Homo sapiens: one gene and its partner. The protein of the gene in region 2 interacts with the protein of the main gene of each other region in a pairwise test. Each region holds a gene or a part of one and is shown on either strand. Other genes may lie near its edges. The genes, in order: MS4A1 and FCRL3.

Region 1 (5,702 bases), on a different chromosome or scaffold from region 2:
ACCAAGTTTTCCATAAAAGGAAGCTCACTAAAGGATTGAAGACTTAACCTAGGAAAATTTCAGATTTGAACCCCTCCATCAGTGTTTTATGTTATACACCAAGAATTTAAAACAAATCAGATTTCTTAAATGAACTCAAGCTAAATGAATCTGAAGTAACTATTTCTGTGTATTGGATCTTTGACTATTCTCTTGTTGATGTGAAATTAAAGGTAAATTTTCTGGGTTTTAACAGGTGCTAGTAATTCCTACTGGTCAATGTTGACAAGACTTTAAATGTAAAGCTACATTTTGAATAATAAGAGGAAACATGTATCTTGCTCATGATTTCTGTGCTCCAAAAGTGATTTGTATAAAGAAAGAAAAGGAAATACCCTACATATCCAATAATAGAGGAATGGTAAATTTATATTGATTCATAAAATCCTAAGTTGAAATTAAGTGATGCTTATGAAATTATGTATCAATAAGGAAAAATCTATGATATACTGTTACATGTAAAAAGTAAATATTATGCAGTGATTGTAAGTGAGTAATCTATTACTATGAAGTAGGATAATCAACTATCCTGTTTGCCTGGGACTATCTTGGTTTTAACATTGAAAATCGTGTATCCCAGGAAATCCCTCAGACTCAGACAAACTGGGATGGTTTATCACCTTATTTTAAACAAAGATTATAAGAAAACCAGAAGAAAATGAAAATAAGTTACGTCAGCCTCCTAGTCAATGAGTGCACTTGGGTTTTTAAAGTTTATTTCCTTTGTGGATACAACATTATTTTTACAAAAATGCAAATTGGGAGGAAAAACTAAGGCTAGAGAATATATCTTCTACTTCTTGGCAAAGCATGTTTACTATTGGTCAATGTTATTATTTGACTCTATATTGCCAAAGGGATAATCGGGGAGAAGGTCATAGGAATTTTCATCCTTCTTTAATAGCAGACATTAAAGATGTCTCCTATTATAAGGAGTTATGTGAGGTCAGCTAAAACTAATTATTTGAGGTCATACAAATGACTCAAAATTCTTAGAGAAACCATGGGTTTGGAGAGGAATCCTCATATATATTTCAGAAGAGGAGAAAAAATAAGATAGAAATAAGATCTTGTATTTTTTTAAAGATTTCTGACTTTCATTTTTTTCTCAGGCCTGCTCCTACTATGTCCTTTTCCTTCTCTCATATATTTCAGTCGTCTGGAGTTCTCAGAATAAGGAATCCATTATCAATGACCTATCCCATGAACATTTTTTTTGAGAACCTGTGTAAGACTATATAGACATGAATATTTGATGACCTGACACCTCACCGTTCAAACCTAGATTTGGGTTGTATAAATATCAACTCAAGGCTGTAAGAGCCTCCCATGGTCTAATGTTTCAAGAGTAAAGAAGAATAGACAAACACCCATGTTGGAATCATCTGTTGCAGAAAAGAACACAAAGATAGTTTTATTAATTTAGAACAAATTTTGAGAACTTTACATAGACAGAAATCTTCTATCTCCTTTTTTTCTAATTTTGGGGAATGTCTTCCACTAGTGGTCGCTAAAAATGTAGAAATATCATAGGGAGTGCAAATTACATTGTCTCTTTACCTGCCACAATCTGGCAGCACTCATCATGTAGCAAATGCCCAAATAATAGACTACAGATTATAGTGACTTCACCCTAGGTTAACATTATTTCTAGGTAAGGTACTAGTATATCTGAATTGAAAAGTAGGGCAGCTGTTGACTCAGATTCGGCATTTTAATTACATTGTTTCCAAGTATGATATTCTGAGAGTGTCTATAGCACTTAGTGTCTGCTTCATATAAACTACCAGTTATTATATATTTATGATGCAAGTAGTTTTCCAAATGTGGTGAAAGTCTGAGTCTTTTTATCCCCATGGGTAAAATCTGAATCTGGCTCTCTGTGTCTCTCAGTGCTTGTTTATTGCTGGTCAGAGAGTAAATTCTTGATAAAAGCTGTTGACTTGGCTCTCACAGTTTATGCAGACATTGGAGAGACAATTTGGTTATTTCAAACATCACAGGATTTGAGTAAGAAGACCTGGTTATGAAACAAGGCTCTCATAATTACTAGTTATGACTGTTGACAAGTTACCTTTTCTTGTTTACAAGTTATTTGGCCTCTTTGAATTACTTGTAAAATAGAGATAGGGATTCTTTCTTGATCATGGAACATCAAATGAAGTTATTTGATGAAATACTTTGTCATCTGGAAATTATAAATATAACTAAATGTTAATTATTATTTGAAATTTGGGCACCTCATGGTGGCATTTTCTATGGTCATTTTTTTCTTTTCTCGCATAATGGCTAAAAGTAGGTAGACATGCAAACAATAGCCTAGAGTGGGAGTTAGGAAAAGTTAAGGCAGAGACATGTCCATGTATAAGCTATGCTGTTTTTACAAAAAACAGATGGGTGTTGGCTATTTAGAGCTTCCCTCATGGGGTGTGGTAACTCTAAGAATGTGCCACAATGTCAGCCCTGTAGAAAGATAAATGGAATGGGTTCTGTATTGTCCCTAGTTGTTATTTTTTTTTATCATCCTTAAAACAATGATGCAAAAGGGACTCCACCAAAAACGTAGATGTGGAATAAAAAAAAGATAGTTTAGGAATGTCATGAAGCAGTCATATATCTTTTCCATCAGGTGCAGTCTCCCTGGTTGTTGATGGAGAAAATGACAAAAAAAAATACTATACTAAAAAGCCTATCCAAGGAACAGGTTAGTAGGAAATCACATTCTGAAGCACTCATTCTGCCTTTCTTCAGTGTAAGAAAGTTGCTCAAAAGAAGAAGCGTGACAACACAAGCTGCTACAATGGCTACATTCTCTACATTCAATGTAAGAGAGAAGGAGCTATGGTCACTCCATGCAAAGGCCAGATAGAGATGTGGTGCGTATGTGCAGAGTACCTCAAGAAATGAAAGTCAGCATGTCTCTTGGAAGCTATGAACACTAATGTTTAAAAAAGGAAACAGAAAACAGAAGAAATCACTTAAGGAGAGCTGTCATTTTCTATTGGTGAGGATTCCTGATCTTGGGGAGGTTCTGGAAAGTTCGTCTCTGTTTCTTCTTCTTCCTCTTCTTGGATTGGAATAATTTCAATGTCTTCTTCATTCTTTGGTTGGGAAGATGTTTCAGTTAGCCCAACCACTTCTTCTTTTATTTCAATAGTCTGTTCTTTTTTTTCTTCTGCTGACAGGAGAACTATGTTCTAAAACAGAAAATTAAACAAACCATTCTTTACTTTTACCACTGACACCTTTGTCAACAATCTCCACAAACATTTATCAAATACCTCCTGGTTTTTATGCTACTTATGTCATTTATTATATGCCTTTAAATGCCAAAATTTTTTTGCAGGTGCTTATATCCTTATCAAGTCATTTATTAAAACTCAAGTCTGAATAAATCTTCAAGGGCAGCAGACATTGACCACAGTGCCTGGAATGACCACGTGGTATTGGGAAAAGAACATTGCAGTAATAGAGGAGTTTAGATTTTCGTTCTGATTTGCCTTTAGTGAATATAACTCTGGGAGAATAATTTTCTCTCTTTGATACTATTTTTCTTTAAATGCAAAATGAAGTAATTAGCGATGATTTCTAAATTCTAAATCTAACAGTCTGGTTCTGAAGCAGTTAGTAATATATCTATTATTGGTCTGTTTTTATTTCCCATTTGTGGAGCCCTTTAACCTGTTGTTTTGGAAGAGGAATTAGGTGAAAAGGAGGGAAGAGGGGAATACTGAAAAATGAAACCAAAGAACTAGTGACTTAGCCTTCAACCTTCAACCATCTTGCTTTTACACACTGTATATGGAATCATGAAATCAGGATGGAAGCCTGAAGTCAAGCAGCAGGGAAGGTTAATAAGAAGATGCACAGAGGTGGGGCATGGTGGCTCACGCCTGCAATCCCAGCACTTTCGGAGGCTGAGGTGGGAGGATCACCTGAGGTCGGGAGTTCAAGACTGGCCTGGCCAACATGGTGAACCCCCGTCTCTACAAAAATACAAAAATTGGCCAGGCATGATGGCGGGTGCCTGTAATCCCAGCTACTCGGGAGGGTGAGGCAGGAGAATCGCCTGAACCCGGAGGCAGAGGTTGCACTGGGCCAAGATCGCGCCATTGCACTCTAGCCTGGGCAACAAAGTGAGACTCTGTCTCAAAAAAAAAAAAAAAAAAGACGCACAGAATATAGAACTGTAGGCTCTAACTACAGACTTATTTCAAATTTCAAGACATCATATTATTTGCTTTCTAGAAATATGCCAAGACCAATTTTTTTTTTTAAATCAAGCTCCTAGTTTCAACAACTCATCAGATTACATTCTCCATAAATGATCCTTTGTGGATGTGGATTTTCTAGAGGGAGGTTTTGGCCAGAGGGGCTACTACTTACAGATTTGGGTCTGGAGCACGTTCTTTTCCATTCATTCTCAACGATGCCAGCTATTACAAGTTCCTGGAAGAAGGCAAAGATCAGCATCACTGACAAAATGCCCTGAAAAACAACAGAAGAATGAAGGTGAAAATGTAATAATGGCACAAAGAACATTGTTGGTGTTCAGTAAGTTATTGTTGACTATAATTGAACGATTAAGAGATCAATTCTTTAGACAAGTAATGAATAGCTGTGAGAACTGCTAGTACAGGAGACAGCATCTTTATAACCCTAACTCTTAACACAACTTTTGGCACACAACAGATGGTTAATGTGTATTGCTGATAGAAAGTAAGGTATGAATAATCAGTTGAAGAATCAATTCTGTATAGGAAAGAATAAGTAATGAGTCTCAAATTAAATTGTATTCAGCCTTAGTTGGTGTGGCATCATGCCTAGGAGACCTCTTCATCCTTGGGAGATGCATTTTTTTTTATCTCTTTCAAACTCTACATTTAAAAGTCCTTGGGCAAAAGATATTCATAACATCTTAGGAATTTCTTCTATGCTCATCTTAGTTAATATAATGGTAAATATTAATGCCATTAATGATGTTGAGAATAATTAATGTTAAAGCCAATGCTTATATAGCACTTCTGTGTACCAAACACTGTTCTAAATGCTTTGTATATATTAACTTATTTATTCCTCAGAACAACCCTATTAGATAAATAGTGTTACCATCCCCATTTTACAGTTGAAGAAATTGAGGCACAGTGTGGTTAAAATTCTTTCCCAAAGCCACACAGACAGTAACTAGCAAACTCAGGTGGTCTGGATCCAGAGTTCATGCTCATAATAAACAAGTCATCCTTCCTCCCTGGAGAGAAATCCAATCTCACACTTACCAAGAACACTTACCAAGAACAGAGATTGTATGCTGTAACAGTATTGGGTAGATGGGGAGTTTTTCTCAGAGGGATTAGCTGGTTCACAGTTGTATATGTTAATATATGGTGTGTGAGCTCTAATAAAATTCAGACTCTCCATTTTTAAAAAATGGGAAATTTTAATATTAAGTATGTCCATGATTGAAAGAATCATTCCAGAAATGGCAGCAAAGAGGCTCAATGAATTCATTATCATTTTTCCTTTGACCTGAAATGGAGACACAGATTTATTAATTGGGTTTGATTTCCCTTTGGAAAACATAATCTGGGAGGGAATTCCAAATGCAACTGCCCTGACTCACAAAGCAACTACAACTAAATATACTGAAGTTCTCTCAGTTGTTT
Region 2 (7,296 bases):
AATGGCTTTTCCACACCTCTTCTCTCCTTCTCTTTCACTTGGCTAGCTCCGATTTATCTTTCTTCCAGAGCTGTCCCTGATGCCAACAGGCTGGATTAAGTAAACTGTCTCCATGCACATAAGACCATGTAATATTAAAATTACTATATTGTTTCGTAATTATTTATTTCTATTTGCCTCTATTTCTCTCTTTCATGAAAGGGTGTGCTACTTGAGGCTGTAAACCTCATCTTAAATTTTTTTGTATTCCTAATATCATGCTTAGCAGTTAAAAATATTCAACAAAGATGTGTTAAACAACTGAACAAAGTATTTACTTTGAGGACTTAAAAATAACAAATTGACAATTTTCTAAAAGGAGATTGCCTGTTAGAAGTCTATCCTTGAAGCCAAATCTATCAGACTTAAAAATATGGCAAGTTTCCGTCATCACCGAAATATTGAATCTTTCAGGCTTGCCCCAATACAAGCCTTATCCAGGTTCCCATCCTTGTCCTTTGCCTTTTTAAAATCTGTGGCTCTAATCGGTCTCATTGGCTTAGAGAATGCAAGTCGTTGCTCAAAATAAACATACCAGCCTTGACTCTCATGAAAAATAACTGAGTAACTCCCTGTTCCTCAGGGAGTGGGACTCCTGAGTTAAGCTAGAGGGGTATGATCAGGATCTGGTCCTGAATCTCCTCAGAGCAATCACAATCCACATCAGTCAATAACCAGTATCTTTTCTGTGGGTGGTTAGCTCCGACCTAGAATGCATCTGGGAGTCAGTCTATCTCCTTATCTGTAAAAGAGAAAACTGAGACCTAGACAGGTGGCTATTTATTATACAAGCTAATATTCCTTGAAGACATATGGGCCAGCACGGTGCTAAGCAGTTTACCTAGGTTGTGTCATAGTACCTAAAAGGTAGATACTGTTATTATTATAACCACTTCATAGATGAAGAAACTGAGTTTAGTGAGTTTAACTTATTTGCCCAATATCAAGTTGGCAAGTTTTGTTACTGGAATTTCAACACAGCCAGATTTACTATAGAGTCAAAAAACCTATCATTCCTTTTAGGAGTGATTCACTCAGGCAAGGAGCAGAGCCCTTAACTTTTAGAAAAATGTAGAAGGTCTGAGCTTCTTCCTGAGAAGTCTTGTCAATGGTGAGAAGGGAGACTTTGCTATGAGGAGGTACAATAAGCAAGATTTTGAGAAAAGAAGAGCACAGACCCTCTGCTTGGTGAACTGTCCTAATTCCTTAGTGAGTTTGTTATTTAAAATAACACTTCCCCTAAGTCTGGGGGACAGACCACCTGGGCTTCTGTTCACATGGATCATGTGAAATGATTGTCAGTTTTCTCTCCTGGTGCTGTGCTGACTGACAACCTCAACACTGAGATTCAAATGTCTTCTTTTAGTATGTTATAGATTAGAAAATGGCATCCCAGATAAACAATGAGAGGAAAAAAAGAAAAGTAATTTTGGAAGTAGGAGGTGTGACTAGCCTTCTATAAGTAATATAATTTCACTTGAAAACAGCAATAAGTTGAAGATGTATACTATAAGCCCTAAAGCAATCACCAGAGTAACAAAACAAATAATTATTGCTTCCAACAAGAAAACTTAACTATTCTAAATATATATGCACCCAACATTGCAGCACCCAGAATCATAAAACAAGTTCCTCTTGATCTACAAAAAAACCTGGACAGTCACACAATAATAGTGGGAGATTTCAATATCCCACTGACAGAGTTAGACAGATCATCGAGGCAGAAAACTGACAAAGAAACTCTGGACTTTGTCAGAAAACTGACAAAGAAACTTGACACTTGACCAAATAGACCTAACACACATCTACAGAATATTCTATCCGGCAACTATGGAATATACATTCTTCTCACCTGCATGTGGAACATATCCTAGGATCAGCCATATGCTGGGCCATAAAGCAGATATCAATAAATTTTTTTAAAAAATCATACCAAGTACACTCTTAGACTACAGTGCAATAAAAATAGAAATAAATATCAAGAAGATCTCTCAAAACTAACAAATACATGGAAATTAGACAACTTACTCCTGAATAACTCCTGGGTAAAGATAAAAATTAATGCATAAATAAAAAAATTTTTTTTAATTAATGAAAAAGGGACACAACTATGCATGTCCACTATCACTACGCCTATTCAAGATAGTCCTGAAATTCCTAGCCAGAGCAACCAGGCAAGAGAAAGAAATAAAAAGCACCCAAATAGCTAAATAAGTCACACTTTCTCTTTTCACTGACTGCATGACTCTCTAACTTGAAAGCCCTCAAGACTCTGCCAAGAGTAAGGTTTCAGGACACAAAATTAAGGTACAAAAACCAGTAGCATTTCTATACATCAACAAAGTCAGGCAAAGAGTTAAATCAATGGTACAATTCCATTTTGAATAGCCACAAAGAAAATGAAATACCTAGGAATACAGCTAACAAAGGAGGTGAAAGATCTCTGCGAGAAATTAAAAAAAAAAATGCTGAAATAAAGACAACACAAATAAATGGAAAAATATTGCATGCTCATAGATTGGAAGAATTAATATTGTTAAAATGGCCATACTGCCCAAAGAAATTTACAGATTCAATATTATTCCTATCAAATTACCAATATCATTCTTCACAGAATTAGAAAAATCTATTTTAAAATTCATATGGAACCAAAAAAGAGCCCAAATAGCCAAAGCATTCCTAAGCAAAGACAGCAAAGCTGAAGGCATCACACCTCACAACTTCAAACTATACTATAAGCCTACAGTAATCAAAATAGTATAGTACTGATACAAAAACAGACACATAGACCAACGGAATGGAATAGAAAACTCAGAAATAAAGATTCACACCTACAACCATCTGATCTTTGCCAAGGCTAACAAAAAGAAGCAATGGGGAAATGACTGTCTATTCAATAAATGGTGCTGGGATAACTTGCTAGCCATATTCAGAAAACTGAAACTAGACCCCTACTTTTCACCATATACAAAACTTAATTCAGGATGGATCAAAGATTTAAATGTAGGACTCCAAACTATAAAATTCCTAGAGGAAAACCTAGGAAATACAATCCTTGACATCAGCTTTGGCCAAGAATTTTTGGCTAAGTTCCCAAAGCAATTGCAACAAAAACAAAAATTGACAAGTGTGACTTAATTAAACTAAAGAGCTTCTGCACGGCAAAAGAAATTATCAACAGAGTAAACAGGCAACCTATAGAATGGGAGAAAATATTAGGAAACTATGCATCTGACAGAAGTCTAATGTTGAGACCTGTAAGGAACTTAAACAAATCAACAAGCAAAAACCAAATAACCCCATTAAAATATAAGTGAAGGACATGAACAGCCACTTCTCAAAAGAAGTCAAGCAAGCAGCCAACAAACATAAAAAAATGCTCAACATCACTAATCTCCAGAGAAATGGAAATCAAAACCACCATCAGATACTATCTCACACCAGTCAGAATGGCTATTACTTAAAAGTCAGAAAACAATAGGTGCTGGTGAGGCTGAGGAGAAAAGGGAATGCTTATACACTGTTGGTGGGAATTTAAGTTAGTTTAACCACTGTGGAAAGGGGTTTGGAGATTTCTCAAAGAACTTATAATAGAGCTACCATTCAACCTAGTAATTCTGTTATTGGTATACGCTCACAAAAAAATAAATCATTCTGTCAAAAAGACACATGCACTCATATGTTCATTGCCATACTATTCACAATAGCAAAGATATGGTATCAATCTAGGTGCCCACCAGTGGTAGACTGGATAAAGAAAATGTGGTACATATACACCATGGAATACTACGCAGACATAAAAAAATGAAATCATGTCTTTTGCAGCAACATAGATTTAACTGGAGGCCATAATCATAAACCAACTAACACAAGAACAGAAAACCAAATACCACATGTTCTCACTTATAAGTGGGACCTAAACATTGAGCAAACATGGACATAAACATGGGAACAACAGACACTGTGGACTACTAGATGGGGGAGATGGGGAGGAATGTGTGAGTTGAAAAACTACCTATTGGGTACTATGCTTACTATCTGGGTGACAGGATCTGTACCCCAAATCTCAATATCATGCAATATAACCATGTAACCAATCCACACATTTACCCCTTACATCTAAAATAAAAGTTGAAAATTTTTAAAAAGTTATGGCTATTATACTAACAAAGGAAGTAAAATAGAATTAAAAAATCAATTATTCCAAAAATAAGTCAAAGTAAAGCAAAAAATAGATGTGACAAATAGAAAGCAAATAGCAAAATAGACATGAAACCTAATCATATCAATAATTACACTAGTGCAAATGGTCTAAACACCTCATTTTAAAGGCAGACTACAATATTAAACTAAACAAAACCGGCAAGAATTAGCTGCATGCTATCTATTAAAAATTAACTTTAAATATAGGGGTACAAATAGGCTAAAAGCAAAAGGATGGAAAAAAATCACATGCTAACACTAATTATATTAACATATTAATATTAGACAAAGACTGTTTCACAGTAAGTGATTCAACCAGGGATACAGAGGGTCATTTCATAAGGATAAAGTGGATAATTCATCAAAAACATGAAAATTCTTAACACTTATCCACCTAATAATGAGCAATTCCAAATTCTGGAAGCAAAACTTGATAGAATTGCAGAAGAAATGGATAAATTCACAATTACAGTTAAAGATTTTAATTCCCCTATCTCAGTAATTGATAGATCAGGTAGACAAAAAATCAGTAAGGATATAGAGGAATTGAGAAACATTATCAATCAAATTCACTGGCAGGCAGTCATACTGTAAGAAATGTTAAAAAAAAAAAAAAGGTCCTTCAGGCAGAACAAAATTGATACCAGGTGAAAATATGGCTATATAAAAAGGAATGAAAAATTCTGGAAGTGGTAACTGAGTAAGTATTCCTTTGAGACCAAATCATAAAAAGACATTTCTAGAAATGAAAGCTAACAACAAATTTTCCTCATAAACATGGACGTAAACATCCTTTGCAAAATTTTAGCAAATCAAATCAACAGTCATGACCAAGTTGGGTTGACCCCAGAAATATAAGGCTACTTCGACATTCAAAATTCACCTTATCAATAGACTAAAAAAAATCTCATTACTATCTCAATAAATGTAGAAAAATCATTTTACAAAAATTTATTTGTGTAAAATCTCTCAGCAAATTAGGAATAGGAGGGACTTCCTCCACCAGATAAACAGCATTGAAAAAAACCCATGGCTAAAGTAATCTGTAATGGGGAGAGATTGAATACTTTCCCCCTAAGATCTGGAATGTGATAAGAATATTTTCTCTCACCACTTGCACTCAGCATTGTACAGGAGGTTCTAACCAGTGCAATTAAGCAAGAACAAGAAGTAAAAGAAATTAATATTGGAAAGGAAAGAGTTAAACTATCTTTCTTTGCAGACAACATGATCATCTATATAGAACATCTGATGAAATCTGCAAAAGAGATACTGAACTAATAAGTCAGTCTAGCAAGATTTCAGGATATAAAATTAATATTAAAATTAGTTGTGTTTCTATACACTAGCAACAATCGGAAATTGAATTTTTAATCTCATTTTTGGCATTCTTTATTTATTTTATCCAATTTCACTACATTTAGCTGGCATTCAAATATATCTCGGAGTTTATGGTCACCTCTATGATGATTTATTTATTTTTTGTTACAAATGAAGGACTTTCTTAGGGAGATAGAACATGAGTTAATTAATTTTCTAATTTTTAATTGGAAGCAAAACTCTGCTACCTAATATAAATCTCAAATTAAACACATGAGGTAAAAATTTTATTGAGAAGTTTATTCTATTGTTTTTGCTACAATTGCCTACAGAGTGACAGTGAGTAGTGGAACTGAGGGCCTAGTACTTGGAAGGGAATACTTGACCTTTATAGGGTGCACCAGACAACTTCAAATTATTATAGCAACGGCAAAATCACATCACAAGGTAGGACCTAGACACCCACCTGGTTTCCTTCGGGCCCTGGCGTAATGCAGCAGAGCAGCAGCAGCAGCAAGGACGAGGATGCTGAGCACCAGCCCCGTGATTCCCGCAGCGGTAAGGCCTGTTCTGTTCCTGGAAGTTCCTGAGTGGAGGGAGCTGTACTTGAGTTTCAGTGGCACAGGTTTTGGATACAGACAAAATCATGCAAGTAGGGTGAGTGTGTTCCAGTTTCTGATTCCTCCTGTAGCATCATTTGTAATTTTCAAAACTATGGCATATGAAAGGTATTCTCCAGCATCTAAGATTAAAATGTATTTCCTTTCCCTCTCCCATATAAAATCAGTACCAATCTCCAGAAGTCCCAAGCCTTCGTGTGCATGTTCAAAACCTCCTTGGTGCTAGTAGAATTTGTACAATCTGTCAGATAACTATTTTATTTACCATAACTGTGACCTCTAGCCCAGGTACTATTAACACACCTGTAACATTGAGTGTCACCACTTTACTGTGCTGGGCCCCCAGGCCATTGTCAGCCTCACATGAGTAGTTTCCAGAATGTTCTGTAGTCAGAGAGAGGTTGAAGGATGCCCCTCCTCCAGAGTGGGCCGAGATGTTCCCCAAGGTGTCATCCTCGTGATAAAACCAGTACAGGATCGGGAAGGAGCCTCTCAGGGACTCACAGTGAAGCTCCAGCAGGTCCCCCACCACAGCCTGGGCCCCGGGAGCCCTGAGGGTGAGGACGGGGCGAGACACCGGAACTGAGGGAGGAAAAATAGTTCACTGGCAGTTTTACTTAAGTAGGTATACAAGAGAACTTAATAAAGGAATATGCAGCATAGTTGAGTTGCGGGAACATGCACCTGGATTCTGGAGAACCTGGGCTTCAATCCTGTCTCTATCCTTTATTAGCTCTATAAGCTTGATTTTTTAAGAACTTTTTAATTTCTCTAAGTCTTAGTTTATTCCTCTGTAAAACTGAGTTAATGATACATTATATCTCAAGCTATTGTAATAAAAATCATATTGCATGTAAAGTACTATAAAAATTGGTTATTATTATTGATAAAAATATAGCTAAAATCAAGGTTTCTAAAATTCCTACACCTGAATCTTAGCTCTAAGACTGAGACTTCCATACCTATCTAAAGGCAGGACCCATTACTCTCTACCTAATCACCTTGCTTTATTTTTCTACATAGCATTTAGCACTACCTGACATCTGTCTATGTATGTATGTATGTATGTATGTATGTATGTATGTATCTATCTATCATCATTGTTTTATATGAT

Evidence for each region.
Region 1: the proteins of FCRL3 (region 2) and MS4A1 interact in binary tests that used the Homo sapiens proteins (3 or more experiments, as listed by UniProt).

Annotation. Positions count from the first base shown.
Region 1 is NC_000011.10:60,465,784-60,471,485, reverse strand, and holds the end of MS4A1 (B-lymphocyte antigen CD20), read right to left. Parts: intron 5,566-5,702; coding exon 5,329-5,565; intron 4,528-5,328; coding exon 4,426-4,527; intron 3,237-4,425; coding exon 3,018-3,236; 3' UTR 734-3,017; downstream 1-733. UniProt on the Homo sapiens protein: B-lymphocyte-specific membrane protein that plays a role in the regulation of cellular calcium influx necessary for the development, differentiation, and activation of B-lymphocytes.
Region 2 is NC_000001.11:157,683,770-157,691,065, forward strand, and holds part of FCRL3 (Fc receptor-like protein 3 isoform 1 precursor), read right to left. Parts: intron 6,765-7,296; coding exon 6,486-6,764; intron 6,149-6,485; coding exon 6,029-6,148; intron 1-6,028. UniProt on the Homo sapiens protein: Promotes TLR9-induced B-cell proliferation, activation and survival but inhibits antibody production and suppresses plasma cell differentiation. Enhances activation of NF-kappa-B and MAPK signaling pathways in TLR9 stimulated B-cells.